Linked DNA regions of Homo sapiens: regions 1, 3, 4, 5, 6 and 7 are each reported to be linked to region 2. Evidence: microRNA targets listed by miRTarBase, many of them from high-throughput screens and not tested one by one. Region 2 holds a microRNA gene; each other region holds the end of a gene's coding sequence.

The links. Region 2 holds the annotated microRNA hsa-miR-23a-3p (AUCACAUUGCCAGGGAUUUCC, at 2,872-2,892, shown strand). A microRNA usually pairs through its seed, bases 2 to 8, with sites in the 3' UTR of a target mRNA and lowers its output. Matches are read on the target gene's strand: a 7mer-m8 pairs with bases 2 to 8, a 7mer-A1 pairs with bases 2 to 7 and ends in A, and an 8mer does both.
Region 1: miRTarBase lists SLC35G3 as a target of hsa-miR-23a-3p. Seed matches in the 3' UTR shown: 8mer at 2,759-2,766.
Region 3: miRTarBase lists FSD1L as a target of hsa-miR-23a-3p. Seed matches in the 3' UTR shown: 7mer-m8 at 2,854-2,860 and 7mer-m8 at 78-84.
Region 4: miRTarBase lists TSNAX as a target of hsa-miR-23a-3p. Seed matches in the 3' UTR shown: 8mer at 1,123-1,130 and 7mer-A1 at 2,297-2,303.
Region 5: miRTarBase lists TNPO1 as a target of hsa-miR-23a-3p. The part of its 3' UTR that is shown has no 7-base or 8-base seed match.
Region 6: the mRNA of TOR1AIP1 is a reported target of hsa-miR-23a-3p. The part of its 3' UTR that is shown has no 7-base or 8-base seed match.
Region 7: the mRNA of FUT4 is a reported target of hsa-miR-23a-3p. Seed matches in the 3' UTR shown: 8mer at 2,760-2,767, 7mer-A1 at 2,675-2,681 and 7mer-m8 at 196-202.

Annotation. Positions count from the first base shown.
Region 1 is chr17:35,190,036-35,194,114 of GRCh38, forward strand. It overlaps SLC35G3 (solute carrier family 35 member G3), which reads right to left. Exons shown (of 1, transcript NM_152462.2): 1 at 2,485-4,079. The coding sequence ends at 3,256. It also overlaps the pseudogene SPICP2. Among named protein-coding and RNA genes, the nearest start is that of SLC35G3, 2.3 kb to the right of the region's middle.
Region 2 is chr19:13,835,408-13,839,486 of GRCh38, reverse strand. MIR23A (microRNA 23a) reads left to right here and starts at 2,828; the gene lies at 2,828-2,900. MIR23AHG (miR-23a/27a/24-2 cluster host gene) reads left to right here. Exons shown (of 1, transcript NR_036515.2): 1 at 1-4,079. It overlaps MIR24-2 (microRNA 24-2), which reads left to right and starts at 3,128; the gene lies at 3,128-3,200. MIR27A (microRNA 27a) reads left to right here and starts at 2,970; the gene lies at 2,970-3,047. RefSeq lists enhancers at 216-315, 536-755, 786-895.
Region 3 is chr9:105,546,097-105,550,175 of GRCh38, reverse strand. It overlaps FSD1L (fibronectin type III and SPRY domain containing 1 like), which reads right to left. Exons shown (of 14, transcript NM_001145313.3): 14 at 1-3,818. The coding sequence ends at 3,693. Among named protein-coding and RNA genes, the nearest start is that of FKTN, 10 kb to the left of the region's middle.
Region 4 is chr1:231,564,048-231,568,118 of GRCh38, forward strand. TSNAX (translin associated factor X) reads left to right here. Exons shown (of 6, transcript NM_005999.3): 6 at 481-2,477. The coding sequence ends at 858. All of the region lies in intron 4 of TSNAX-DISC1 (TSNAX-DISC1 readthrough (NMD candidate)), which reads left to right. Among named protein-coding and RNA genes, the nearest start is that of TSNAX, 37 kb to the left of the region's middle.
Region 5 is chr5:72,904,691-72,908,769 of GRCh38, reverse strand. It overlaps TNPO1 (transportin 1), which reads right to left. Exons shown (of 25, transcript NM_002270.4): 24 at 3,325-3,467; 25 at 1-61. The coding sequence ends at 3,360. Among named protein-coding and RNA genes, the nearest start is that of MIR4804, 28 kb to the right of the region's middle.
Region 6 is chr1:179,917,979-179,922,057 of GRCh38, reverse strand. It overlaps TOR1AIP1 (torsin 1A interacting protein 1), which reads right to left. Exons shown (of 10, transcript NM_015602.4): 10 at 1,982-4,079. The coding sequence ends at 3,819. Among named protein-coding and RNA genes, the nearest start is that of CEP350, 35 kb to the left of the region's middle.
Region 7 is chr11:94,545,274-94,549,273 of GRCh38, reverse strand. It overlaps FUT4 (fucosyltransferase 4), which reads right to left. Exons shown (of 1, transcript NM_002033.4): 1 at 1-4,000. The coding sequence ends at 3,548. PIWIL4-AS1 (PIWIL4 antisense RNA 1) reads left to right here. Exons shown (of 5, transcript NR_135093.1): 5 at 3,428-3,942. Among named protein-coding and RNA genes, the nearest start is that of FUT4, 3.4 kb to the right of the region's middle. RefSeq lists an enhancer at 3,102-3,776.

The DNA of each region.
Region 1 (4,079 bases), not on the chromosome of region 2:
CCTGGGCTCAAATAATCCTCTCACCTCAGCCTCGCAAAGCGTTGGGATTACAGGTGTGTGCCACCGCGTCTGGCCAAAACAGTACCAGTCTTATGCAAACCCTTCCAAAGAAGATAAAAGAAAGGACACTTTCAGCTCTTTTTATGAGGATAGCTTGATAGCAAAACTTAACAAAGACATATAGGAAAATTGTAGACCAGTATCTTTTATGACTATAGGTACAAAATCCTTTACTAAATACTAGCACCCCAAATCCACCAATATATAAAAAGATAACACATTAATCAAGTTATGTTTATTCTAAGAACAATAAGTTGGTTAATATGAGACTATCAACCAATATAATGTACTACATCAACAGAATAAAGAATAAAATAATGACTATCTCAATAGACGTAAGAAAAGTTTTTGATAAAATTCAGTAACAATTCATGATAAAACTCTTCAGTAAACTAAAAATAGAAAGAAGCTTCCTTAATGTGATAAAGTTTATCTGTATAAAATCTATAGCCACTGTGATATTTAATTATCCCGAGATTAAGAATGAGATAACAGTACTTGCTATTACCAATTGTATTCAACTTTGTACCGAAGAGCGTAGCTAGTACAAAAAGGCAAGAAAAGGCAATGAAAATCATAAAATTGGCCAAACGTGACAGCTGTTACAATGGCAGGTTACAGGTTAGCCAAGCGGGAGGCAGACATGTGTTTCAGGGGAGGGGAAGGCTATTTCCACCATATGCAAGTGGATGCTGCATTGGACACTGATGGGCAGAACCATCATGCTGGAAAATAATTTTTTATTTTCATGACAGCCTACCATTGAATTTACAATTCTGATATTAATGAAATATCTCTATAAAGGGTTGAAGTGTCTTCCTGCAACAATTGCCAAGGAACAAAATTGTCAATTTATTAATGAAACATGACGTGTGTTGAACAAGACAAGCTGGGTCAAGCATTTGAGGATGCTTTTGAGGCACTGAGGCAACATTCAACTGGAGATCTTTAGTACTCGCCAGATTACAAAAATTACCTGGCTTTAATCAATTATTGTCCTCACGTCAAAGGAAATTCCAGCTGCTATGGAGTGTTGCCTACAGAGGAACCTCTCTGTAATTGGAGAACGGTAATCAACAGTGCTGCGGACTTCTATTTTGAAGGAAACATTCATCAGTCTCTGCAGAACATAACTGAAAACCAGCTGGTACAACCCACTATTCTCCAGCAAAAGTGGGGAAAAGGCAGGAAGAAGCTTAGACTGTTTGAATACCTTCACGAATCCCTGTGTAATCCGGAGATGGCACCTTGTATTCAGTGGGTAGATAAAATCAAAGGCATCTTTCCGTTTGTATCAAAAAACAAAGGAAAACTTGCCGAGCTTTGGCGGAAAAGAAAAGGCCGTTGGAAGACCATGACTTATCAGAAAATGGCCAGGGCACTGAGAAATTATGGAAGAAGTGAGGAAATTACCAAAATCCGGAGGAAGCTGACTTACCAGTTCAGTTAGGCCACTCTCCAAAGACTCTCTCCATCTTATTTCTTGGGGAAAGAGATCTTTCCCCAAGTGTGTTAAACCTGATCAGGAATATCTCAGTTTAAATAACTGGAATGCAAATTATAATTATACATATGCCAATTACCATGAGCTAAATCACCATGATTGCTAAATATACTCTCATATTTCATGGTTTCCTGGCATTGGAAGTCCCTACAGTTTTAAGGATTTCTCACTCTCTGTCTCTTTTTTCCTTCCTCTGAAGGAGTTTAGGATTTTTCTCTTAAAGCAAACACTAAAGAGAAAAAAAACCAAGTAACTTTATTTGCTGCTTTTATCAAAGAGCATGTAATCTATACTAACTCAGTGGGAAATTCTGCCAATGAGCAGCTTTTTTTTTAATACTCTATGAAGATTCAATGAAAAACTTTATTGTTTCAAATGATTAAGTCCATTTGAAACTATAGACTAAATGTCCTTGCTCTGCTCTTACTATTCTCTCTAATTTTTTTATTTTATTATTTTTTAAAAGAGGTCTCAGCCAAGACAATTTTAAATTTTTATGGATTTAGGAGTACAAGTGCAGTTTTGTTGCATGGATACATTGCGTAGTGGTAAAGCATATTGCATAGCATCCTCATCATCAGAATAGTGAACATTGTACCCAATAGGTAGGATTTCATCCCTCATCCCCCACCCATCTGCCCACCTTTTGGAGCCTCCGGTGTCTATTACTCCACTCTGTATGTCCATTGCTAAGCCCCCAACTATACTCATTTTATTTTATTTTAAAACTTGTTTTCTTTTTCTGCATACTTCAATGGATGCAAACTCTTTTCATTTTTTCTTTTCCTTTCACAGACAGTGACTTCATTTTTTTTTTTTTTTTTTGCTGCTAACTCCCAAGCACAACACAGTGACTTATGTTTTTAATTTTTTTAAGAGGCAAAGCCTACCTCTGAAGCTCCTTTTTTTTTTCTTTTCCTACTTCAATAAGCTGGTCTACATTCTTACTCTTCTCTATGCAACCACTTTCTTCTAGATTAACAGTGCTAGTACAGATGATTTGATTTATACATTGATTTCAGCATTTTCTTTTCATGTACTCAGGTGAGGAAAATCACTCTTTTATATCCAATGACTTTACAAAAAATCATTTACAAAGAAGTGACTGCATATGATAAAATATTTGTGCCAAAATAAATTCATGGCTTTTAAAATGTCATAGAAATGTCTATTCAGGTATCTTTTTTTTTTTTTTTCACATTCACTGTAATCCTTGTTTGATGTCAATGTCACGTCACCACCCCAAGCGGGGGGCACAAGCACGAGGAAAGGAAACCTTCCCCGTGAGGGGAGGGGTGGGGAGGCACGCTTCCCTCCCCCAGCGCAGCTGCTGGCTCTGTCTTTGCCGGAACACTCCAGCCCCAATGCTCTTCTCTTTGCTGCTGAGTGAAGTCCTCCCCATGGCCCACGGCCTCCCTGCCTCAGCCCTTTGGATCTGCTCCTCAGACTTTACCCCTTAGTTATGCCCTGATTCTAGGACCCAGCCTGGACTCCACATCCCTTGGTCCCAGGCTGGCCCCAGGTCTTCCACGTAGTCCCTCTCCACCAAGTCCCCAAGTCACCCTTGACTCTGAGAGGTATCCCTCTCCCACACCAGTTCTTTTCCAGTCACTTCTCCTCCCATGTTTGTCTTCAGTCTTTGCCTTTATTTATCCCTGTCCCTCCCAACCCCCGGGCTCCCAAGTTCTATCTCACTCCTCCACCCTCCCTGTCCTCTCACAGCTGAGGTTCTGGGCTGTAATGATGGCAATGCTGCCCAGCACAACCCCTGCCGCCACGATGTCAGAAGGTGCCACAGTCTCATGGAGCATATAATACTGCAGTATAAGGGCCACAACCACCTCGGAATGTAGGACAGCGCACACCAGGGCAGGGTGGGCCTTGGTGACCGCATAGCCCACACATGTGAAGGAGACCAAGGCGAGGATCCCCACTGCCCCCACACAACTCCAACTCAGGAGGTCACTGGGCAACACGGGGGCCTGCAGCACAAAGAGGCCTGGCACAGAGCCCAGCAGCCCCACCAAGCCAGATAGGAAGGCCACTGTTGGGAGGCAGGGGGGAAAGTGCAGAGAACGATAGACCAGAAGCCTCAGGGACAGCGCCAGGCCTCCCAGGAAAGCCTCCACATAGCCCAGGGCGGTGTAGACACCCGTGGTCCCCTCCTGTAGTGTCCAGAGTCCAGGTCCCACAATGATGATTAGTCCTAGGATGCAGCCCAACAGTCCACACCAGTCGTAGCCACTGAGACCCTGGCTCTCAAGGCAGAGAGTGAGGACGGCGGAGCAGACGGTGGAAGAACCTTTGCGAACAGTGGCAGCGTTGCCAGCGGGCACCACCTGAACCGCACTGTAGGCACATCCAATGCTGAGGATGTTGAGCAGGGCACAGAAGAAGGCCCGGCTTCGGATGTCAGGAGTTCCCAGAAGGGGGTCGCCACGCAGTTTAAGTAGCAGGGCAATAGGGAGGTGGAAGAGGCATCGCCAGATGAGCAGCTCCAGCGAGGGCAGGTTGG
Region 2 (4,079 bases):
GCTCCCCAGCCCAGGGGCCCGCCCTCTCCCTCATGCCTCCAGCTGCTAGGAGCTTGGTTTCCCCCTGGACACCATCTCCCAAGAGCCTGAGAAGTGCACCATGATTGGTAAAGGGGACCCTGTCTCCTGGGCACCTGCATGGCAGCACCCCTTCCACTCAAGACCCAGACCTTTTGTGCCTGCGGGGATGGGGAGTGGCCTTGGCCCCGGCCCTGGGCTCTGTGCAGGGGAAACCCCACAGGAAACGAGCCTGGCCAAATGGCCGCCCTTCCCGTTCTCGTCCCTGGGACACGAATGTGCTGTCTCACTTCCGGAGGCGGCCCAGGGAGGCTGGCCGCCCTGCGGGGCCTCGCCTGCTCCCAGTTGGCGCCTCCAGACCCTAAGGGGACAGGGCTGGGCTGGGGCCTGATGGGAAAGAGTGGCTGGTATGTGTGTATGTGTGTATAGGGAGGGGACAAAACAGGACATCACTCGCCGCCTGTCTCGAAGTGGTGAGCGCCACCACATCGGGCGGACACTGGGGTCCTGGTGTGAGACACCCACGTTTCCGTTATCCTTTGCCTTGGCAAAGACAGCAGCAGCTCTGTCGTGATCATGTTTATCACTCATGGGGTCCTCACCATGACTTATGAAGTCCATACTTATTATCCCTGTTTTGCAGATGGGGAAGCTGAGGCCCAGAGAGGTTGAGTGACTTGCCCAGAGTCACCCAGCTCAGAAGCTGCAGAGCTGGGGCTTTCAAATCTGGGCAGACTTGGGCTCCAAAACTGGAGTCTGCTAGCCAGGTGTTGGGCTCTTATCAAAAGAAGCTCCACTCACTAAAGACTTAGGGCTGGCTTCATGCATTTGTGAAACGGGCAGTCTCACGGCAGCCCTGCTTGGAGGGACCTGGAGGTTAGTTTAATGTTGCACTGCTGGGGTCATGAATTTTTTTTTATTATTATTAATTTTTTTGTCTTGTATTGCCCAGGCTGGTCTCGAACTCCTGGCCCCAAGCGATCTTCCTGTCTTGGCCTCCCGAAGTGCCGGGATTATAGGGATGAGCCACCGCGCTCAGCCTGAAATTATTTTCTTTTTTTAAACTTGTTTTTGTTTATTTTAGAGATAGGGTCTTGCTCTGTCACTTAGGCTGGAGTTCAGTGGCATGGTCATAGATCACGGCAGCCTCAAACTCCTGGGCTCAAGCAGTCCTCCCACCTCAGCCGCCTGAGTAGCTGGGGCTACAGATGTGTACCACCACTCCTGGCTGATTTTTTAGTGAATTTTTTGTGGGCCAGACACTGTGGCTCAGGCCTGTAAGCCCAGCACTTTGGGAGGCTGAGGCAGGCGGATTGCTTGAGCCCAGGAGTTGGAGACCAGTCTGGGCAACATGGCAAAACCCCATCTCTACAAAAATTAGGGCCAGGTGTGGTGGCTCACGCCTGTAATCCCAGCACTTTGGAAAGCCGAGGTGGGCGGATCACCTGAGGTCAGGAGGTCGAGACCAGCCTGGCCAACATGGTGAAACCCCGTCTCTACTAAAAATACAAAACTTAACTGGGCGTGGTGGCGGGCACCTGTAATCCCAGCTACTCGGGAGGCTGAAGCAGGAGAATTGCTTGAACTCTGGAGGTGGAGGTTGCAGTGAACCGAGATCACGCCATTGCACTCCAGCCTGGGCGACAGGGCGAGACTCTGTCTCAAAAAAAAAAAAAAAGAAAAGAAAAAGAAAAAATTAGCCGGGCATGGTGGTGCATAGCTGTAGTCCCAGCTACCCCGGAGGCTAAGGTGGGAGGATCACTTGAACCTGGGAGGCTGAGGCTGCAGTGAGCTGTGATTGCACCCCTGCACTCTAGCCGTGGCGACAGAGTGAGACCCTGTCTCAAAAAAGAAAAAATATTTTTTTTTTTTGTAGAGATGGGGTATTGTCGTATTGCGCAGGCTGGTCTTGAACTCCTGGCCTCAGGTGACTCTCCTGCCTCGGCCTCCCAAAGTGCTGGGATTACAGGCGTGAGCCGCCATGCTTGGCCTGAAATTCTTAGTTTTCGAACTAGAGGACCACGTGTTCATTTTGCACCGGGTCCTGAAAATCCTGTATCTTGCCCTGGTGCTGGGCACTTACTGAGTGACATACATACTCGGTGACATCTCACTGGGCTATGCAAAAGAGGCTCTTGGCTCCATTTTACAGATGGGGAAACTGAAGCTTTGGAGAGTCTTTGGGAAACTGTGGAGCAAGGATTTGAACCTTGGGCTGTTTGGGTGGAGAGGCCTGTATCTTGGAGCTTGGATCCTGTGCTCTGGGGGGCGGGGGGTGCGTGTCTAGAAAGAGAGGGGGGTGCCTTGCTGCCGGCATCCGCCCTGGTGGGTGTGGGCTAAGCCCTGGCCACTGAGGAGACCGGGCCACGGGGGGGGAGGCCCTGGTGGTTTCCTCCTGCCCTCCAGGCTTCTAGGAAGTGGCGCCAGCTGGGGTGAGATCACTTCCTCACCCGCCTGCCTGGCCCCCCTTGGCTTCCTCTCCCCATGGCCCCATTTGGCCTGCCCAGGGCTCAATGAGGGGGGAGCTTGGCCATGCAAGTTGCTGTAGCCTCCTTGTCCCGCATGGGCCCTCTAGGTATCTCTGCCTCTCCAGTCCTGGGGCTGGAACGGAGGGCACAGCTAGGCTCCAGCTCCCCGTGTGGTGGCTCCTGCATATGAGAAAAGAGCTTCCCTGTGATCAAAGGAAGCATCTGGGGACCTGGAGGGGAGGTGTCCCCAAATCTCATTACCTCCTTTGCTCTCTCTCTCTTTCTCCCCTCCAGGTGCCAGCCTCTGGCCCCGCCCGGTGCCCCCCTCACCCCTGTGCCACGGCCGGCTGGGGTTCCTGGGGATGGGATTTGCTTCCTGTCACAAATCACATTGCCAGGGATTTCCAACCGACCCTGAGCTCTGCCACCGAGGATGCTGCCCGGGGACGGGGTGGCAGAGAGGCCCCGAAGCCTGTGCCTGGCCTGAGGAGCAGGGCTTAGCTGCTTGTGAGCAGGGTCCACACCAAGTCGTGTTCACAGTGGCTAAGTTCCGCCCCCCAGGCCCTCACCTCCTCTGGCCTTGCCGCCTGTCCCCTGCTGCCGCCTGTCTGCCTGCCATCCTGCTGCCTGGCCTCCCTGGGCTCTGCCTCCCGTGCCTACTGAGCTGAAACACAGTTGGTTTGTGTACACTGGCTCAGTTCAGCAGGAACAGGGGTCAAGCCCCCTTGGAGCCTGCAGCCCCTGCCTTCCCTGGGTGGGCTGATGCTTGGAGCAGAGATGAGGACTCAGAATCAGACCTGTGTCTGGAGGAGGGATGTGGTGGGTGGGGTTGGCTGGGCCCAAATGTGTGCTGCAGGCCCTGATCCCCAACTCTGCAACTGGGGACCCCTGCATGGCCACAGCTCAGGCTGGGCTGTGGTGCCAGCATAGATAGGTGGGTGAGTGGGTGGCCCTTCCATTAAAAGGGAAGCCAGCTGTGTCCTTTCCGGGCCTGGAGGCTTGGCCCCTCCTCTCCCAAGCCTGGCAGGGGCACTGGCCCGGCCCGCACCTTCCTAGCAGCCAGTTACCCAAGAGGAAGCTGCCTTGGGCCTCCAGACCGTTAAATGCCAACTCCTGGCTTCCGGTATCAGGCTGGGTTGACCTGACCTGGCCCCTTCTTGCTGGGCCCTGCAGCTTTCTAACTTGCCGGGAGGAGCAGTGACACCCGCCCCACATGTGGGGCATGGAACAAGTTCCTTGTGGACCCAGAAGGGACACAAGCAGGTGTGCTTAGTCCTGAGGCGCTGGGAATAGCTGATCCTCCCTGCCTTGAGGGGGTTCTCAGGGCAGGGAAGAGTTAGGACTCTGTTTTTTTTTTTTTGTTTTTTTTTTTTTGAGATGGAGTCTCGCACTGTCACCCGGGCTGGAGTGCAATGGCTCGATCTCGGCTCACTGCAACCTCCACCTCCCCAGTTCACACGATTCTCCTGCCTCAGCCTCCCAAGTAGCTGGGATTACAGGTGCACACCACCGCACCTGGCTAATTTTTGTATTTTTAGTAGAGACCGAGTTTCGCCATGTTGGCCAGGCTGGTCTCGAACTCTTGACCTCAGG
Region 3 (4,079 bases), not on the chromosome of region 2:
CACTACTCAAAAGCTGCAAAACTCTATGCACAGTCCATCAAACTTCACTGGTTTTGGTTAATGTACATACAAAGTAATCACATTTTTACTGCCATATCACAAACACTCAAATATTTGCTGTATGGATTAGCCAATGAATGGAGACTCATCTTTTAAAAACAAATTACGTTTTTAAAAAAATAATTATTTTAAAATATAATCAATTTCTTAAGCCTGGAATCACATATTTTACAGTAAGAAGTCTACACTTCCCTCTTTAAATAAATATTCTTTGAAATAATCATTTTCCATATACTTTTCCAATTGTTTCCATAAGAAACAATAAAATTACATAAACAATTATAATTTTATGGACAAAGTATATAGATAAAAATCATTCTACATAAGTTATGAAATAGCATATCTTAGCCTAATTAAAAGATTCCATTACATTTACTTTTATCATTTATACTGCCAAGGATCAGTCACAAAAAATTCAAATTATACATATTATTCATGCTTTAATTTCATAAATAAGTAAATTAAAGCAAGCCAATATGTCTCTCTTCATAACATAGGGAAAAATTACTGTTTGCATAACAGAGTAAATAGGCAAAGTCTAGCCATACAGCAGCAGTTCACGATTTGTCAAGATGATACAGATACCATCAATGAAACCCATGTATAGACAGGCATGTCCTTAATACTTTCAGTTAGTTTACGTACACCTGGAACATTCAAAGAATTGCTGTATATTAAATTTCTGTGTGCATTAGTTATTAATGCTTGGTATCTACATATTTACCAAAATTTAAAGACATAATGACATGGTCAGCCATGAGAGTCAAAATGAATTGTAAAAAAATTCTTTTTCTAAAGTGCTTAAGGCAGCTCCTTCATTTCGATATCCAGCTTAATAAAACTCGTTGGGAATTCAGTTGCTAAAAGAGAATGCCATACTAAATGCATGTTTTTAGAAAACAACTGTTTTATACCTGTGACATATCCATTATAGTCAACCTCTCAAGCATTTCTTTTATAGAAAGCAATCATGTTTGACCTGTAGAAACAAAAACTAAATAAGCAACAAAAGATGTTTCAAAGGATTTAATACTTTTTACAATGTATTAAATTGTAATCAAGAGCTCAATATTTTTAAATTCAAATGTAATTGAGAATATTATATAGTATAATCAAGTTAATAGTTACCTTATTTTGAGACTAAATAGGCACTATATTTGATTAGTTTTCAGTTTGAAAATGAGGATGACAAACTTTCTCCAGTTTAACTTAACAACAAATAAACTAAAAACGTCTTAAACAAAAAACCACATCTTGTTCTTTAATTTTAGAGACCTTTAAGAACGCCAGTAAGAAGAAATCCTCAGACTCTTATTTTGAAGTAATAATTGAAAATTTAGTATCAAATAATACATGTGATGAGAATTTGGACTGGATTTACTGAACTTACACTATTATTACAAAACCTCTCAGAGATGAAACCTCTCCAGTGGAGAGGTTTTCCAAATGAATATTAGAAAATTTTATGTGAAGAGTTTCAAATGACAACATGAACACAAGAATCATGTATACTCCTCCAGCCCCTGATTAATATATGCATTTCCCCATGCCCCTGCAACAGAGGGCCCTCACCACTACAACAATGCTCTGTAGCTTAAACATCAGTTGACACTGCATGGGGCATGGACCAAGAGTATGCTTAGAGGAAAAAGGCACTGAATTAATGAGAAGAAAGAATTATATAAGACACACTAGTAAAAAATTTTATACAACAGCATCTGACCTTTTCTGTGTCATATTTGTTAAAATTCACTTAAAGCAACTCAACTACTAAAAATTTCTGCTTTCAGGTTTGAGTCTATGAAAGGAATTATAAATTCCCATTCATTTAGATCCTGGAATAGGCCCTCTATAGGGAACAGAACATCTGAAAATTTCTTTCAAACTCTCTCTGAGGAACAAAAACCAAAATTATATTTCTTTGGAGAATCAAAAGAGTATCTATTGGTTTACTTCATTCTCTAAACTGCCTTGCAGTCTTTAAAATTACCAACATGTCATCAGATAATAGTGCAGATATGAATGTCCTCTAGAAAAACAATATTCCAATTCAAATAAAATTCCTCATTTACATTTGTTTTATCAAGGAAACAAAACATCCTATCAGTGGGCAGTAAATTTTTAGAGAGAATGAGCTACTATTAATACTATTATACAAGTCTCTATGTAGAAAGCAACGCAAATGTAGGCAGTAATGGTCACTCCTTGGAAGAAGGTTGGTTATCATAGCACAATATATTTTAAATGAGAATGAAAAAAAGTCAACAAATGTAAAGTTTCAAAAATGAAGAAAAATACAAATTCAGACCTCTTAAAAATGCCCAAAGAATTATTAAATACTGTAATTTTAATTTAGTTTAGCTCAAAGGATGTGAGTTACAAATTATAATTGACTTTTTAAGAACAGTTATGTTCCACATAACCATGGGTTTTACCCCAAGTTTGGGAAAGATATCTATGTCAATTTTTGTAATAATTAACATTTCTTTGAAAAGAAAGTGAATGTAGCAAAAGGACTGAGAGAAAACAAACCTCTGAATGAATGGCTGCTTGAAAAAGTCATGTGCCAATTAAGTCAAAGATACGCAGATTTTTTTCAAAACAATTGCTTAAAGCATTCCATATGTTATGAAAAAGAATATATACATTATTTGAGTATTTAGGTACCTCCCTTTATAACCTATCCTTCTTAGATAAAAATTGAGTGATATACATTTTTCAATCCTCTATGTAACTTTAATAAACTTTGATTCCTATAAGAGATGCTAAAAATCAGCATAATTATTATCAGTGTCACATTCAAGTGGGAATTTTACCAAACACAACTATTAAAGGTAGGATTAAACTAGACAACAAAATCAAAAAATATAAGGCTTTCAAAAATCTTACCCATCACCTAAAGTGATGGAATGAAAAGAACTGTAGTTAAACAAGGCAACATATAAAGAATACCCCCCTTGCCATTGTTAGTGCAGTAGGTAAAGAACTGAAATTTGGGTGATTTTAAGCTGTTGTGTCTAGAAATTTCTTATCACAATATTTTGGAAAAAAGAAAATTATATACAATCTAGTCAATAAACAAAAGAGGAAAATTTTGTAAAACTTATTTATAAAAGAGGAAAAATAAACCATTTGAAAACCTTTTTACCATTCCCAACATATGATTTCAATTTTTAGAAAACCTTGGATGACTATGTATTTTTAAAGCTTCTGTGTTAGAACTAAATAATAGATAGTAATGAGATTTTAAAAAGACAAAGTACAGAAGAAAGAAGGCAAGATTTAAAAGCTTTTCTCCCCAGGCCTTAGGGTTACCATATGTAATTAAACATTAGAATAGTCAAAGTAATCCAAGAAATACAAAAATGAGTTTTTATGTTAATTAAACACTGCCTTTTCCCCCATTTACTCTTCAATCATCAGTTTTTTGCTTGGTATCTGCTTGCTTCTATGATACTGCACAGTAGGTTCCTGCAAATGCTTCGTACTAGGTGTTTAATGATAAAAGATTCCAGGCCTCAAAGCAGAACACAGCAAACCTGATTTTCACTACTACCAAATTCCTGTGATTAGTAACTGCACAGAAAAGGCCACCTAATCAAGACGGAGGGTAAACGTATTCTGAGTAGACACTATTGAGTAACAACATTGTTCAGGCTGCTAGCTGAACCAGTCATTCCATTTTCACTTTTCTGAAGTGTTCTCACAGCACTTGGAACCTGCATCCCAGTACTCAAAGAAAGTCCACCACACCATACCTAAGAAAAGACAAAAAAACCTGTCAGATTGCAAATCAAACTAGAATTTCAGTGATTTTTAAATTTCCATTTCAAAGGCAAAATGCCACACATATGAACATCAATCATTCTCAAACACATTAACTGTCATATTTCAGCTGAGGGGAAATGGAAAGACTAAATCAGAATTATTTTAGAACCACAGAGGCCAGAGGAGGTCTTGGTGGTAGCAGAACCAACTGAAGCTGCACCCAAGAGAAGGAACTCAGGGGTGCAGAAATT
Region 4 (4,071 bases), not on the chromosome of region 2:
ATGCAGTGAGAGAATAATAAATTGTGATGGTGAGTGCTGAATAGGGAAAGACAAGAAGCCAGAAAAAGACTGAGCTTCTTAGGAAAACATTAATGGATCACAAACTTGGAGGGCTGTATGGTTTTTCATTTAAGAAAGTAATTGTCGTGCAATAAAGTTATTAAGCCTTGTTCAAGAATATTTTTATTTTGTACATCAAGTGGAGTTGGAAATAGTTGGTTTCATAATGATATATTTCAAAAGTATCTTGAAGTCATCTGGTTCATTTCACTACCCAGGGCACACATTCCTCCTGTAACATCCCAAGTGGTTATTAAGCAAAACAGATTTATTTTATTTAGAAAAAATTAGTATGACTGATTTGCTATTGATTTTGTACTTCTATAATAAATGTGATACATGCTATATTCACTCTTTTTCACAGTGTTCTTTCTTGTGTGTGTGTGTGTGTGTTTTTGTTTTGTTTTGTTTTTTTACCAGCCCTCCTCTGATGCACAGGATAAGCAGTTTGGTACTTGGAGACTGAGAGTCACACCTGTCGATTACCTTCTGGGAGTGGCTGACTTAACTGGAGAATTGATGCGGATGTGTATTAACAGTGTGGGGAATGGGGACATTGATACCCCCTTTGAAGTGAGCCAGTTTTTACGTCAGGTTTATGATGGGTTTTCATTCATTGGCAACACTGGACCTTACGAGGTTTCTAAGAAGCTGTATACCTTGAAACAAAGTTTGGCCAAAGTGGAGAATGCTTGTTATGCCTTGAAAGTCAGAGGGTCAGAAATTCCAAAACATATGTTGGCAGATGTGTTTTCAGTTAAAACAGAAATGATAGATCAAGAAGAGGGCATTTCTTAGAATCTAACGTTACTCAGTTACTAATTCTTTTGAGAACTCCTAAGAGACCAATTTGTAAGACTTATTTAGTATTTCATTTAACTTTATTGTGGCTTTTACATAGAAACATATTCAGTTGTACTTGTTTTAAATTGTATACAAGCTGTACATAAAATTAGCCAAATGAATCATTTCTTATATCTTATTCATGAAAGTTTGCATACAGATGTTTGCATATATGCCTTTTTGAATTTTTGCTGGTTAACCTTTATCATTTATCTTTGTAATGTGAACATGCTTCAGAGTGTACCTTTTGCCATAACCTATTTTAATTTACTTTTTCTGAAGTTTGGAGTGATAATTTTTAGTGGAAGCAATTTGTAATTTAAGTTGGTAGTTATATTATATATAGAAAAGATTTTTTAGTTAAACTTCTGGACATGAGCGTCCTGTTTAAATTTCTTGTTAATATCGTGCCAAGCCTCAAAAATAGGCTTATTCCATGGAACAAGAATTAAAAATGAATAAGCTATCAATATATAATTTAAGTACAAGTTTAGGCTGGGCGTGGTGGCTCACGCCTGTAATCCCAGCACTTTGGGAGGCCGAGGTAGGCAGATCACGAGGTCAAGAGATCAAGACCAGCCTGACCAACGTGGCGAAACCTCGTCTCTACTAGAAATACAAAAATTAGCTGGATATGGTGGTATGTGCCTGTAATCCCAGCTACTTGGGAGGCTGAGGCAGGAGACTCGCTTGAACCTGGGAGGCAGAGGTTGCAGTGAGCCGAGATTGCGCCACTGCACTCCAGCCTGGGTAACAGAGCAAGACTCCATCTCAAAAAAAGAAAGAAAGAAAAAAGAAAGTACAAGTTTATAAAGTATTATAGTGAAAAATTCGCATTCTGGCTGATTTTAAGCCATTTAAAATTTATATAAAACAACCTTCCATAAAAATTTGACAGGTGCCCAGATGTTGCTTTCTCCATTTATTTTTTGTTTTTTTTTAATCACAGTAGGTCTGATAGAGAATTGGAGCTAAATTATAATATTTTTGTTGGTAAAGTTGAGTTATATACTTGTACATACAATGGAAATGCTTTTAGTAGTGATTATTTAGCAATTTTTGTTTTTGTTATATTAGGCATGTTTGGAGGCTTTCCTATTCTAGCATTTAAATTTAAATTTTATTAAAATTAAATAATTTAAATCTAGCATTTAAATTTAAATAATTTAAGTCTAGCATTTACTTTTAAATAATTATAATGAAGTTTTGAAATACTAAGTTAATCCAGACCTTTAGTTGTCCCATGGTGTTAATAAAGTTGCCAAAGAAGATGTATTATGAACAATTCAGCAATAAGACAATTGTCAACACAGTTGAGAATAACAATGGTAATCGTTAGTAATATTTAGAATTGGAATTTGCCTACTGAAATAGTTATAGATGATTACTTGTGATGTGAAACTGAATTGAGCATGACAACCAGACATTTCCAGTTGGTTTTGTAAGTTTTGAGAATCTAGATACTGGGTTTTATTTTTTGAAAGATTAGCTCTGTTTGTAAGGGCTGATTCCTTGAAAATGTAATTTTCCAGAAAAACACCTAAAGAAAATAAAACATGGACATGCCTAGTAAATTCTGTTTTTTTGTTTGTTCGTGTTAGTGATGGTGGGTTTTTTGGTTTTGCAACTCACCTGTAGTCAACTCACTACAGGTGAGTTGGTGCCATTGCTACTGATATATCTCCACAGTTCATGTCATACTAATACTGTGGGTGTTACGCCAACTCTGAGTCTCACTTTTAAAAATACTTACTATGATGGCATCATGTGTGGTAACAGTTTTCATCTTTAATAGAAAAAGAAACTGGTTCTAGGTCACATGGTAAGTTACTGACAAAATTCTGAAAGAATATTGGGTTCTTTCATAAATAATTTCCAGCATGTATTACATCAGTGAATTTTTTTATTTTTTTAGACTTAGTCTCTCTCTATTGCCCAGACTGGAGTGCAGTGGCATGATCTTGGCTCACTTCAGCCTCCACTTCCTGGGTTCAAGCGATTTTCCTTCCTCAGCCTCCCGAGTAGCTGGGATTACAAGCACATGCCACCATGCCTGGCTAATTTTCTATTTTTAGTAGAGATGGCATTTTCATCATGTTGGCCAGGTTGGTCTCAAACACCTGACCTCAAGTGATCCTCTCACTTCAGCCTCCCAAAGTGCTGGGATTACAGGCGTGAGCCACTGCGCGCAGCCTACATCAGTGATTTTTAAAGTACACATTGAGTGCGCTGGGGCTTTTTGAAGGTGTCTCAAAGAAAGATGATATTTAAATTAGATTGGCAGAACAGATTTGAAAATTCAGTCCCTTTATGTCTACATAAGAGTTACTTTAGATTCAGACACACAAGTAGATTGAAAGTAAAAGGATGGAAAAAGATACTCCATGCAAACAATAACCGAAAGAGAGCTAGAGTGGTTATATGAATAATATCCAACAAAATAGACTTCAAGAAAATTATTTTTTGCCAGAAACAACATACAATAAAACACTCAACCCATCAAGAATACGTACCAATTATATACGTGTGTATATACGTGTACACACATATTTCTAACAGAGCCCCAAAATACATAAAGCAAAATTTAAGTGGAGAGAAATAGACAATTCAACAGTAATCATTGTAGATTTCAGTACCCCACTTCCAATGGCTAGGACACCATGACAGAAGATCAGTAAGGAACTTGAACCACTCTGTAGACCAATTGGATTTAACAGACATATATACAGAACACTCCACTGAACAGCAGAATGCATATTTTTCTCAAGTGCACATGAAACATTCTTTGCAAAATTTCAGACCACAAAACATCTCAATAAACTTAAAAATACTGAAATCATACAAAATGTGTTCTCTTACCACAATGGAATGAAACTATAAATCAATAGAAGGAAAGTGGTATAATTTACTAATAGGTGGAAGTTAAACAATGTACTCCTAAGTAACCAGTGGATCAAAGATGAAATCACAGGGAAATTAGAAAATACTTGGGGGTGAATGGAAAGAAAAAGTTGATATACAATAGCATATGGGATGCAGTGGAGCTGTGTTGAGATAGAACTTTATAGCTTTAAATGCCTGCATTTAAAGAAGGTTTCAAATTAATAAGCTAAACTTCAGCCTTAAGAAATTAGAAAAAGAAGGGCAAAGTAAACCACAAAAGAAGCA
Region 5 (4,079 bases), not on the chromosome of region 2:
GTAAAGGGTAACATTTTCCCTGGGTGCAGAGGCTCCCTTATAGTCTCCAAGACTGAAGGACCTATAAGAAAAAGAACAAAAACAATTTTATCTTTAACAATCGTTTGTCTTTCAAAGCCAGTGGAACAAAAAATTAATCAAATAAGAATGCTATCTTTACCTATAAAGAAAATGAGAAATTTGGACAAATTGCCTAATATCGTGTTAGTCACTTATAACCATGCTGCTTCCTTCTCCTATGGCACTGAATTGTTTGCTGCATCAGGTATGAAAAGTGAGGTCAAGCTGGGTAGGAGAGTTGTATAGACAGGTGTACAACACTTTGTATAGTGAAATATGCCTCGTATGATGCTATCAGTCTAATTCTTTATCCCCTTTTGCAAAATGGGACCCAATGGGAACTTGTTATTTCTTATATAACAAGTGGCCTTACTTTCTTAAAAATAAAGTAGCACTTTCTTTAGGACAATCCTTAGAATGAAAACACCATCTTTTTTTCCCCCAGTATTCCCAATATTAAGCAAACAGAAATCCAACCTATCAAAACACAAAAGAGCATTTGTTATTTGGGGTTGTCTGGTATTTTAAGCCTAGAAGGCACTAGAAGTGTTCATTACCACAGCAGGGTCACTACATTCAGTAAGTATCAACAAACAAATTCTACATAAAAAAAGAGAGAGAGAAAAAAGCAAATTTAACATTTATTTATTTATTTTGGAGATAGCACCTTGCTCTGTCACCCAGGCTGGAACGCAGTGGTGTGAATATGGCTCACTGAAGCCCCAACCTCCTGGGCTCAAGCAATCCTCCTGCCCAGTCTCCTGAGTAGCTGGGACCATAGGTACATACCACCATGCCCAGCTCATTTTTTTCTTTTTAATTTTTTTCATAGAGATGGAGATCTCATCATGTTGCCCAGGCAGGTCTCAAACTCCTGGGCTCAAGCAATGCTCCCACCTCAGCCTCCCAAAATGCTAGGATTATAGATGTGGGCCATCACACCCTGCCTACACTTGCCTTCTTGATGTTCCTAATTAGTTCCCATTCTGATCCTATTTCACTTGGTCATTTCCACTATCTTCCAGTCACTTGGTTTTTCTGGTAGGAACTTTTTTCTATGCTAAACAGTTTTAATGATAAAAAGGATATTAAGAAATAAGGTAAGATTACTGGGAGATTTAAACTGTTACCTGATAGTGGTCCTTTTACAAACAGAACTCTACTACCCAATCATGCCAAGTTTTGGCCATTTATGAACGTTCATGTGAATTCACAGAGGGCAGTTAATCCATCTGTGTAGAAATATAAGCAATCCCTTTTCTCCTGCCTCTGAAGAAAAGGAAGAGGAGTACAAAAAGGCAGGAATAAAAGATACTGATCTACTTTTAGCTCTAATTACAAAACCGAGAACTATTTCATACCTTGTCTTAGAACAGTTAATTCATGATTGGTGATGAGACCACAGAGGTAATAAATCTGAAAGTGCTCAAGACTTGTTAGTAGCTCATTGAAGCTTTGAAGCTACAAGTCATTCTCATCTTTTGCATTCTCATAATTTAACATAAGGTGAATCCAGCACTTTTCCAAAATGCCAAAGCCATTTTGGAAAACAGCTCTTGAGGACTCAAGACTGAAGTAGGACAACACATATGAAGGGCTCTGACACATTCTGGAAGCTTTGAGTCCATTTCTACTACCTTCTAGGTTAGACAGCTTGGATGGTGAAATCTTTCCAGATTTAAATTTTAGCTTGGAGTAAACAAGCAAGCAAGCAAGCCAAAAAAACTCCTCCAATTCAATCTAAAGTGTAATTCAACTTGGTGTACATCTTCTGTACATGCTCATTCAGCACATCTTCTGGCTTCCAGTCAGATATGTCTTAATTCATGTTGAAAATCTAAAGATGAATGTCAAAACCCTGATATTTATTGTACTGGCCCAGTTCCTAACCTTTACTGAGTCAACTTAGTGTGCCAGGCAACATACTAAGTTCTGGCATCACATACAGTATAGTATTTAATCCTCAACATAACTCAATGACAAAACCGAAGCTCAGAGATGAGAACTGCTAGTCCCATTTAAGTACAGAAGAGCTCAAGGAGCAAGAGTCCAAATGAATATAGTCCATCCCAAATTAAAACAGAATCTTTCATTGCTTATTTTAAAATATAGTCCTAGGCACTGGGCTCAGTGGCTTACGCCTGTAAATCCCAGCACTTTGGGAGGCCGAGGTGGGTGCATCACAAGGTCAGGAGTTCGAGACCAGCCCGGCCAACATGGTGAAACCCCATCTCTACTAAAAATACAAAAATTAGCCAGGCATGGTGGCATGTGCCTGTAATGCCAGCTACTTGGGAGGCTCGGGCAGGAGAATTGCTTGAACCCAAGAGGCGGAGATTACAGTGAACTCAGATTGCGCCACTGCACTCCAGCCTGGGCGAAAGAGTCTCTGTCTCAAAAAAAAAAAAAAAAAAAAAAAAAAAAAAAAAAAAAAGAAAAAAAAAAGTGATGGGCACATGGTAGGTACTCAGTGAAACATACAGTGAAAAACAAAAACAGTGGGCCAAAACCCAACTGAGTTTTCTTTCAAAGCACGTGAAATGAAAAGTCCTTGTTACAGCAGAGACTATAAATTCATGCTCCAAAATGAAATCAATTTTACCCCATCACTATGAGTGCCGATGTCTTCTTGCAGGAAAAAAGAAAGAAAAAAGGAATAGTTGAAGCAATGTTGAGAAATCCAACCAGTGTACCAACGTGGATTTCTTTATACCTACGATTCAAACTGGAGCTAATCGTTTTTCTGGGCTTGTTGGTTCTATTAAGAAAATTTCTTTAGCCTTCACTTGAGTAATTTTATTTTCTATTTATTTGAGATGGAGTCTTGCTCTGTCCCCTAGGCTGGAGTGCACTGGCAAGATCTTGGCTCACTGCAACCCCCATCTCCCAGGTTCAAACAATATTCCCACCTCAGCCTCCTGAGTAGCAGGGACTACAAAAGCACGTCCCACCACACGTGGCTAATTTTTGTATTTTTAGTAGAGATGGGTTTTCACCATGTTGGCCAGGCTGGTTTCAAACTCCTGACCTCAAATGACCTGCCCACCTTGGCCTCCCCAAGTGCTGGGATTACAGACATGAGCCACCACACCTGGCCCACTTAAGTAATTTTAAATTTAAAGCCCAAGATAGAATGATATGAGGCTATGTTTTATTCAACCTCTATAGAAAACAAATAGCTTTTTATTCTATTTAGTAGTTTGAAATGACAGCCCTAACAAAATTTTCTTCATCCTGAAAATTTCCAAACTTCTTATAACTTACCCCTAATTTTGGGACTGCAGCTTAAGTGTATTAGATTAAACACCATAAAAAGCTGCAAGACGCTCTTTTAAGGGAAGAGGAAACTGGTCAGAGAAACGCCTCCAATTTTCATCGCCAACTTGATTTTTAAATCCATGAAGGATCTGTAAGAGTGAAAAACCATTAATTTATCAATAACAAGAGAAAAATTCAGATCAGCATAGCTTCTGAAATCCAACACAGCTGATTTTTTTATAAATTTTATCCATTTTAAAGTAGCAATTCTCAAACTTCGTAGGATTCTACACCATTCCCTGCTAATATGGTCTGGCTCTGTGTCCCCACCCAAATCTCATCTTGAATTGTACTCCCATAATTCCCACGTGTTGTGGGAGGGACCCAGTGGGAGATAACTGAATCATAGGGGTAGTTTTTCCTATACTCTTCTGGTGGTAGTGAATAAGTCTCATGAGATCTGACGGTTTGATAAGGGGAAACCCGTTTCACTTGATTCTCATTCTCTTTCTTGCCTGCTGCGATTTAAGACTTGTCTTTCACCTTCCACCATGACAGTGAGGCCTCCCCAACCACATGGAACTGTGAGTCGAATTAAACCTCTTTCTTTTGTAAATTACCCAGTCTTGGGCATATCTTTTTGTGTGTGTGGCGGGGACAGAGTTTCACTCTTATTGCTCATGCTGGAGTGCAACGGCATGATCTTGGCTCACTGCAACCTCCACTTCCTGGGTTCAAGCGATTCTCCTGCCTCAGCCTCC
Region 6 (4,079 bases), not on the chromosome of region 2:
TGTAACAATAAAGGTCTTATTGTTTAAGCTACCAAAAAAAGAAAAAGAAAAAAGAAAGAAAGAAAGAAAGAAAGAAAAAAAACAGGAGGCACCTAAAATAGTATCTGGGGGAAGGGAATTATGAAAGATTTCACTGAAGTGCTGCCCTAAGAAAACGAAGACTTTAAGGACAAATAAAAATTAGCAGAACATGAGATTGGAGAAAGCGAGAGGGCAGGAAATGAAGTATTCCAAGAGTCTAAGAATGTGCAAAAGACAAGTGAATGATGTGTTTAGGAAATTGCAAGTAGTTCATTATGTCTGGGGTGTAGAGTACAAAGGGGTTCTTCTGTTTATGCTCAGGTGACAGGAACTAGTTTCTCTACCACCCACAAGGGTCCTTAAACACACAAGGAATTCTCAGAATCCAGGCCAGAAAGAGGGCATTCAAGGGAGGAATTTCCTCCTTTTCCAGTCAATGGCAGCCTTCTCAGCTTGGTTTTCCAGGCTCAGGAACCCCATCTTTGGTGGTTAATGCCAATAAAATCCTCTTCCTTAGGGAAAAACACTATCCTCTTATACCACAAAATTTTACTACATGATCTTGATAAGGACAAAATAGCAGAATAATGCATTATCTTTACGTATTTAATGTAACTGCTTGTTTACACTGCCAAAAGAAAGGCTACTTTCCATAAACTTGAGATCATAGGGAAACTGGATATTATACTTTTAGCTTAGGCGTTAACTAATGGTACAAAGTATGTAAACCCCTATCACTTCTAAATGGCAGTTCACTGAATGAAAATCAGTTTACTTCCAATTTTTGTTTTGAGGATTAGAGGTTTAGAAAACATCTTTAAATATTAAAAAGTCATTAAAACAAGGGAAGCAAATTAAGTTTCAAATTAAGTTACTGTGGTTTTCCTGGGCCACTGTTGTCAGCCAGTTACAATGTGCTCCATTTCTCTAGACCCTAGCTCCTATTCTGAAGCTGGTATCTTACTTAAATTTTCCTTTCTAGGCCAGGCTCCGCGGCTCATGCCTGTAATCCCAGCACTTTGGGAGGCCAAGGCAGGTGGATCACCTGAGGTCAGGAGTTCAAGACCAGCCTGGCCAACATGGTGAAACTCCGTCTCTACTAAAAATACAAAAAATTAGCCGGGCATGGTGGTGTGAACCTGTAATCCCAGCTACTCGGGAGGCTGAGGCAGAAGAATCACTTGAACATGGGAGGCGGAGGTTGCAGTGAGCCGAGATTGCGCCACTGCACTCCAGCCTGGGCAAGAGTGAGATTGTCTCAAAAATAAAAAAAATAAAAAATAAAAAAAATAAAAAATAAATTTTCCCTTCTAAAAGGATCACAGTAACATGAATAGCAAATAGAACATTTTAGGCAGCAATTATCTAAAACGTGGATGCTCTTGAGCATGCATTCTCAATGGGGGTGAAAATTGGTTCATTGGGGACAAAAAAAAATTCTATTTTGTATAAAGCAAAAAACATTTACAGTCCATAAACAGATACATAGTATATATCTGGTGTTGAAATATCATGGGGAAGGGGTGACTAAGAAAAAAATCTAAAAAAGTTCTTCAGGGAGGTGATAAAGAAAAGGTTAAGAAGCCAGGTGTAGTGACTTATGCCTGTAATCCCAGCTACTTAGGAGGCTTAGGCAGGAGGACTGCTTGAGGCCAAGAGTTCAAAAACAGCCTGGGCAATATAGCGAGATCCCATGTCTACTTAAAAAAAAAAAAAAGAAAAGCTGCTGTGGAGATTCTTTTGCTAAGTCAGGAATATCTAACTTAACTGTATTTTTAAAAACCCTAAGTGCCGAGATAAAATGGAAAGTTACGGCTATTCCACTTCTAACCAATGTACTTGCAAATGGCTCCAGTTCTTTGATTTTTGTTTCTCCTAGCCAGAGTTGCTACAATTGTTCAAGGAAAATACTTGGATTTCTTTTTTTAAAGATGATAAATCATTAAGTTTATAACACATAGAGAGTATAAACCAAGAAAGTAAATTTATTTAAATTACTAAAATAGCTTTTAAAGTCATTTACAGATCAGCTGCTATAATTATTTTTCCTGAAAGACATAGGTAACATATTACTTTTAAATTACTTGGGTCAATGAAACATTTAATAAAAACATTTGTTTCTCTATATAATACGTATGTATAAAATAAGCCTTTTCAAAAACTCTGGTTTTCATAATCCTCTATAAATCAGATGATCTGACTTCTAAGAGGAACAAATTACAGTAAGGGGTATACATTTATGAATACTGGTAGTACTAGAGGAAAGACGTTAAACCACTCTACTACCACTTGTGGAACTCTCAAAGGGTAAATGACAAAGCCAATGACTGACTCTAAAAACAATATTTACATTTAATGGTTTGTAGACAATAAAAAAACAAGGTGGATAGATCTAGAATTGTAACATTTTAAGAAAACCATAGCATTTGACAGATGAGAAAGCTCAATTATAGATGCAAAGTTATAACTAAACTACTATAGTAGTAAAGAAATACATTTCACACCCTTCATATAAATTCACTATCTTGGCTTGAGGCACTCCATAAAATGTATCACGTGCATAGTAAATCTTTATATTTGCTATGGCGTTGCACTAGAGGACTTGGACTGCAACAAGTGGATGCGCGGAAAATGAAATCTTCTTCAATAGCCCAGGACAGCTGGTTAACAAATGGTTTGTCAATTCCTGAAACTCATTTCTTAATTCAAAACAAAAGCTTCAGGGTGTGTCCAAAATAAACTGTTACGAATTGACCTACTTTTTTTTTTTTGAGACGGAGTTTCATTTTTGTTGCCCAGACTGGAGGGCAATAAGCATGGTCTCGGCTTACTGCAACCTCCGCCTCCCGGGTTCAAGCAATTCTCCTGCCTCAGCCTCCCAAGTAGCTGGGATTTCAGGCATGCACCACCACGCCCAGCTAATTTTTGTATTTTTAGTAGAGACGGGGTTTCACCATGTTGGCCAGGCTGGTCTTGAACTTCTGACCTCAGGTGATCCACCTGCCTTGGCCTGACCTACTCTTAAGACTCAAGTGAACAAATATATTAAATTTTGCAATATACATGAAGAATCCTTGGGACAGCCAAGAATTTTTCTTCAAGGAAGGAAAAAGGAGATGTAAAAAACAAATCCCAACGGAATCCACCAAGATTAACAGTTCATATACCTATGTTTGACTAAACTACATCTCAGTGGATTACTGTAACATTTCCTCCCTTCAGCTTCCCCATTAATTTTCCTTCCTTGCCTTGTTCTTTCCATTTTCCAAAAAACAAAAGAAAAAAATTCCAAACACACACCTAGATGACCTTTCATTACTTATGTTCCTATAGGCAGAAGCTAAGGAACTCACACCTAAATGGTATAAAAGGGAACATAATGGGAAAATCCCTGGTTACATTTAGGGAGCAATCTTACTAATAACTCAGGAAACTTAGTGAGAAATCTAAGTTAAAAAATCAGGAAGGTTCATAAGAAAGGACACAAATCCCTCTCACTGGTCATACCATAACTGTAATAACTCAGCCCAGAATCAAAACAGATTCTCTAAGGAACTGCATATAATCTGCACTCCTAAGATACCTTTAACAGAGCTCTCAATGGAAACTGAAATGATTCTCTCATATCACAGATAATTAGGTTGAATGAATGATTTATATGTTCCATGTTTATGTAAGCACTTAACTTCTTTAAAAAGAAACTAGTTCTTTCAAAAAGAGCTCTGAATTCTGTCTCTGGTTAGAAAGTGTGAACAATTCTCAGAACTTGGGACATGATTTTTCTTCTCTCTCACTTCTTATAAGCAGATGCCCCTTTTCAGGGCATTTTCAGGTTGCACAGGCAGAACTAAGTGAGAAATACGGCTCCAGAGGCCATTCAGTTTGTCTGGGTCCATATGATTGTAGGAGTTGGGTGTGTTAGAATTGGTGAACTTGACTTTAAGAAAATCTCTTACTTTTTCTTCAACTTCCTTTAGGCCTAGACTTGTTCCAAGTGTCTCTTCCTCCAATAAGACAGTCAGGACTAAGGCTACATCTTTGAAGGCCGCGTTTTCATG
Region 7 (4,000 bases), not on the chromosome of region 2:
ATGCCAGGCACTATCCTGAGTACTTCAAGTGTCTAATCTATCCTCTCAACACCTCCATAAATTATATATGCAAAGCGTAAAATATTTACTCCCTGGAAAAACGTTTGCCAATCCCTGGTTTAGATCCTTGAAAATTTAGAACATCTTATAATTATATAGCACTTTACAATATACAAAGCACCTTGGCATACATCATCACATTTAATCTTTGTTTTGTAGGGGGATAGGCATTCATGCATTGTAAAGGAGAAAGCTAAAACTCAAGAGTTTAAGTAACTTGCTTCATCAAGGCCACAGAGTCATACCCAGGTTCTGACTCCAAACTGCATGCTCTTTACATGAAACTCCTCTGTCTCCCCTAAATTACTGCTAGGAAAAGACTTGGAAACTGGAAAGAACTTGTGAATACTGAAAGCAAGTCAGACCGTCTTCTGTTACAAATGTCATTCCAGGTGCATTCATGTAATTAGAGTCATCAAGTACTAAAAATACTAAATTTGTAATAAATTTGAGGGAAAAGCCTTAAAGGAGGACATGACAATCATAGGAAAGGCATTTTGAAATACATACAGTGCACCGATATGCATTTTTCTTAAGGTATGTTAGAGCTGAACCTACTCAATTTAATATATGCAAAATAAAATGAGCAATTGCCACATTCATCTCGCTCTCTGATGAGATTAGTGTTAAATTGTTCCACATTAACAATGTGTATGTGAATAAAAATGCAATGGCTGGGCACGGCGGCTCACACCTGTAATCCCAGCTCTCTGAGAGGCCGAGGCAGGTGGATCACAAGGTCAGGAGTTCAAGACCAGCCTGCCCAACATGGTGAAACGCAGTCTCTACTAAAAATACAAAAAATTGGCCAGGCGTGGTGGCAGGCGCCTGTAGTCTCAGCTGCTCGGGAGGCTGAGGCAGGAGAATCGCTTGAACCTGGGAGGCGGAGGTTGCAGTGAGCCAAGATCACGCCACTGCAGTCCAGCTGGGGCTACAGTGCAAGACTCCGTCTCAAAAAAAAAAAAATGCAATTATACCTTCCTCATGCTAATTATTCCATAAATAATATGGTTAGTTCTAAATGGACTTAATACTAAAAAAAAATTGGTAAAATAATAGATACCAATTTATAGAGCTTTACCAAAACGAACCAAAAAAATATTTTCAAAGAAAGCCTAGGTGCTTCTTCCTAGTTTGCAAGTCAAGCTTAATCTAAATGGTGATTTAGATTATCCTTTTAATTTATTCTACAACATACCTTAAGATATAATTTTAGACCTATAAATAGATATGAGGACATCCTGAAATCACTGCAAGCAAAGAAGGAAGATATAAAATCATCAATTGGGTGCCTGCTATTTTAGGTACTTTCACTTACTTCCTAAAGTGCTCAAAATGAGCTTGTGAAGTATTTTCGCCAGTCATTTTATAGATGAGGACGCTGAGGCTCAGGACTACTACTAATTTACCCAATGTCACATAGCTGGAATTCAAATCTAAACTAGGTTACCTTCAAAACCTGAACTCTTTCCCACTGCCCCATGTGGAATCCCGGTAACACCAAGATCACTGACTGTTATCTCATAAAAACTCATTTTAAGAACTGAACTTTTATCTTTATTCGGTGGCTGGCACTTTGTAATTGTAATTCTGCCCACACTTTAATACTTTAATGAGGACATTTTCTCCACAGCTTTTCATTTGTCCTCTCAAGAAAGTGAATTGAAGCACCTAGATTTAAGTGAGCTTTTCAAGTATGTCTGCAAAAACATGTACAGAGAGGTAAAACTTGCTTTATGATTCAGAGAACTGCACTAATCAAATGCAAAATGACTATTTACAGCAGAACTCTGTATAAAACTAGTTAATCTTGACCCTACCCACAATAATTAGTCACTGAGGGTCCTTATTCTAATAAGTGGAGGAGAAAACTCCCATTATTTCAGGCTTTAAGTCAACTAGCTTTCTAATATTGATTTATGGTATCATTAAGACTGTCACAGTAATCAAACAGGTTCTGCCAATTGTTTTATCAGTCACCATTTACTTTTTGGAAGTGATAGATTGTAAGAGCCCTAAAGAGAAGGACTTTGCCTTGTATAATTCTCTATCTTCCCTAGGGCCCCAAGCTCAGTGTCTGGCAGAGTAGGCATGTAGTGGCACCTGCTGAATATGCTGCTTACTCAGTAACTTGTCAAGTCAATGCATGTATGTTCAAGATTGGTTCCATAGCACAGTCTCAAGGGCACTAGAAATGTGAGGATATGCTATACCACTGCATTGACTGTGAGGGGAACCTGCTGGCACCAGGGAGAAGCGCAGATTTAGCCTTTAACAAGAGACAGAGTAAGTTAATAGTAGGCACTAATGTAGTTCTGAGGATCTAAACATTTAACTAAAAACTGTCAGAGATAAACAAAAACTGCCAACAACAGATATCATGAAACTTTTTTTCCTTTTGCATGATTCCATAATGTAGTGCAATACCTTTCACTGTTCTGCAGAGGGTAATGCCAGCACTCCTGCAGGACTGGCATTGCAGTTTAAATTTCAGGTCCAGTAAAGACATGAAATAAATAATTGTGTGGAAGTGACACTATGGCTTCCTTCTCTTCTGTCTGTAAACACAGACTGGTTTTCTGGGAAGAGGGAAAAAGGTTGCTTCTGCTTTATTTTCACATCTGTAATTTTAATATGATTTAAAAAATCCAGGTTATAGAAAAACATAAAGACAGAAGAAACAAATTAGGAGATGACTATTCACATTGTAAAGGGATAAATTCTCCATAGGGTTTCATTAAATACTGAACTCCCCTAAGTCAATGAATTTGGGACTTGATTTAAATGCAGCTTTTCAGGAATACATTTCTTATGTAAAGTGAGGTACACGCATGTATTCATCTTAAGTTTCCTCCAAGGACAATCCAGCACTTTGCTTCCATTCACAGGACAGGGGAACAGATAGTACTTGTGAAAGAAGTCAGCGGCCCCTCTTGGACTGCCCTCCTCACCTTTCTCAGGAGCCAAGGCTGTGAGGAATCCAAACAACAAAGTCCCACCTGCAGCCACAGTCCTTCCACTCTCCACCAACAAGGCTCCTTCTACAACCACAAATTTGCTTCACCTTGGTCCAGAAAAACGTGAATCGGGAACAGTTGTGTATGAGATTTGGAAGCTGCACGGGCCACAAATATGGCCTGTGGCAGATGGGGAAATTCAGGAAACCGCCTCAACGGCTTCTTGCCGCTAAGCTATTTCATTTCTGCACTGGTTACAAGGTGAGGAAGAACCCCCTCCTTCACCCCTAAACAATGATGCCCATCAGCAGCAAAGGGAGCCCAATTGCTAGCTGTGCAAAAAATATGGAAACCGGGCCCCCATCTCTGTGCTGAGTAATATTAATTGGTAAATCGTTTTTTTCCCATAGAGCAAAAATGGGTGTTTGAAGAACTTACTCCCATGATGCGGCAGTCAAGGAGATGCACAGTAGAGGATCAAAAAGCTGACAACTTGGCCTCCCCTGGGTCGCTTCCAGGGGAGCGCGGCTTCACCGCTCGAACCAGCTGGCCAAGTTCCGTATGCTCTTGGGCCGGTCCCCAGCCCTCTGTACAGCCTGGCACACCCGGCACCAAGGCTCGTCCCAGAAGGAGGTGATGTGGACAGCGTAGCTCCGGCGCCAGTGGAAGTAGCGGCGATAGACCGCGGGGTTGCGGTCGAGGAAAAGCAGGTACGAGGCCAGGGAGGAGGCACTTGGGAAGTCGTCCACGTGGATGAAGGCGCCGCGGGGCACAAAGCGCTCGTAGTTGGCACGGTCTGGGCCCAGCACCACCGGCACCGCCCCAGCGAGCAACGCGTTGCGCCAGAGCTTCTCGGTGATATAATCCAGGTGCTGCGAGTTCTCGAAAGCCAGGTAGAACTTGTAGCGGGCCACTGTGTGCAGGAGCCCAATTTCGGGCACCGGCTGCCCCGGCCCGCCCCGGCCGAACACGTCCACGGTCAC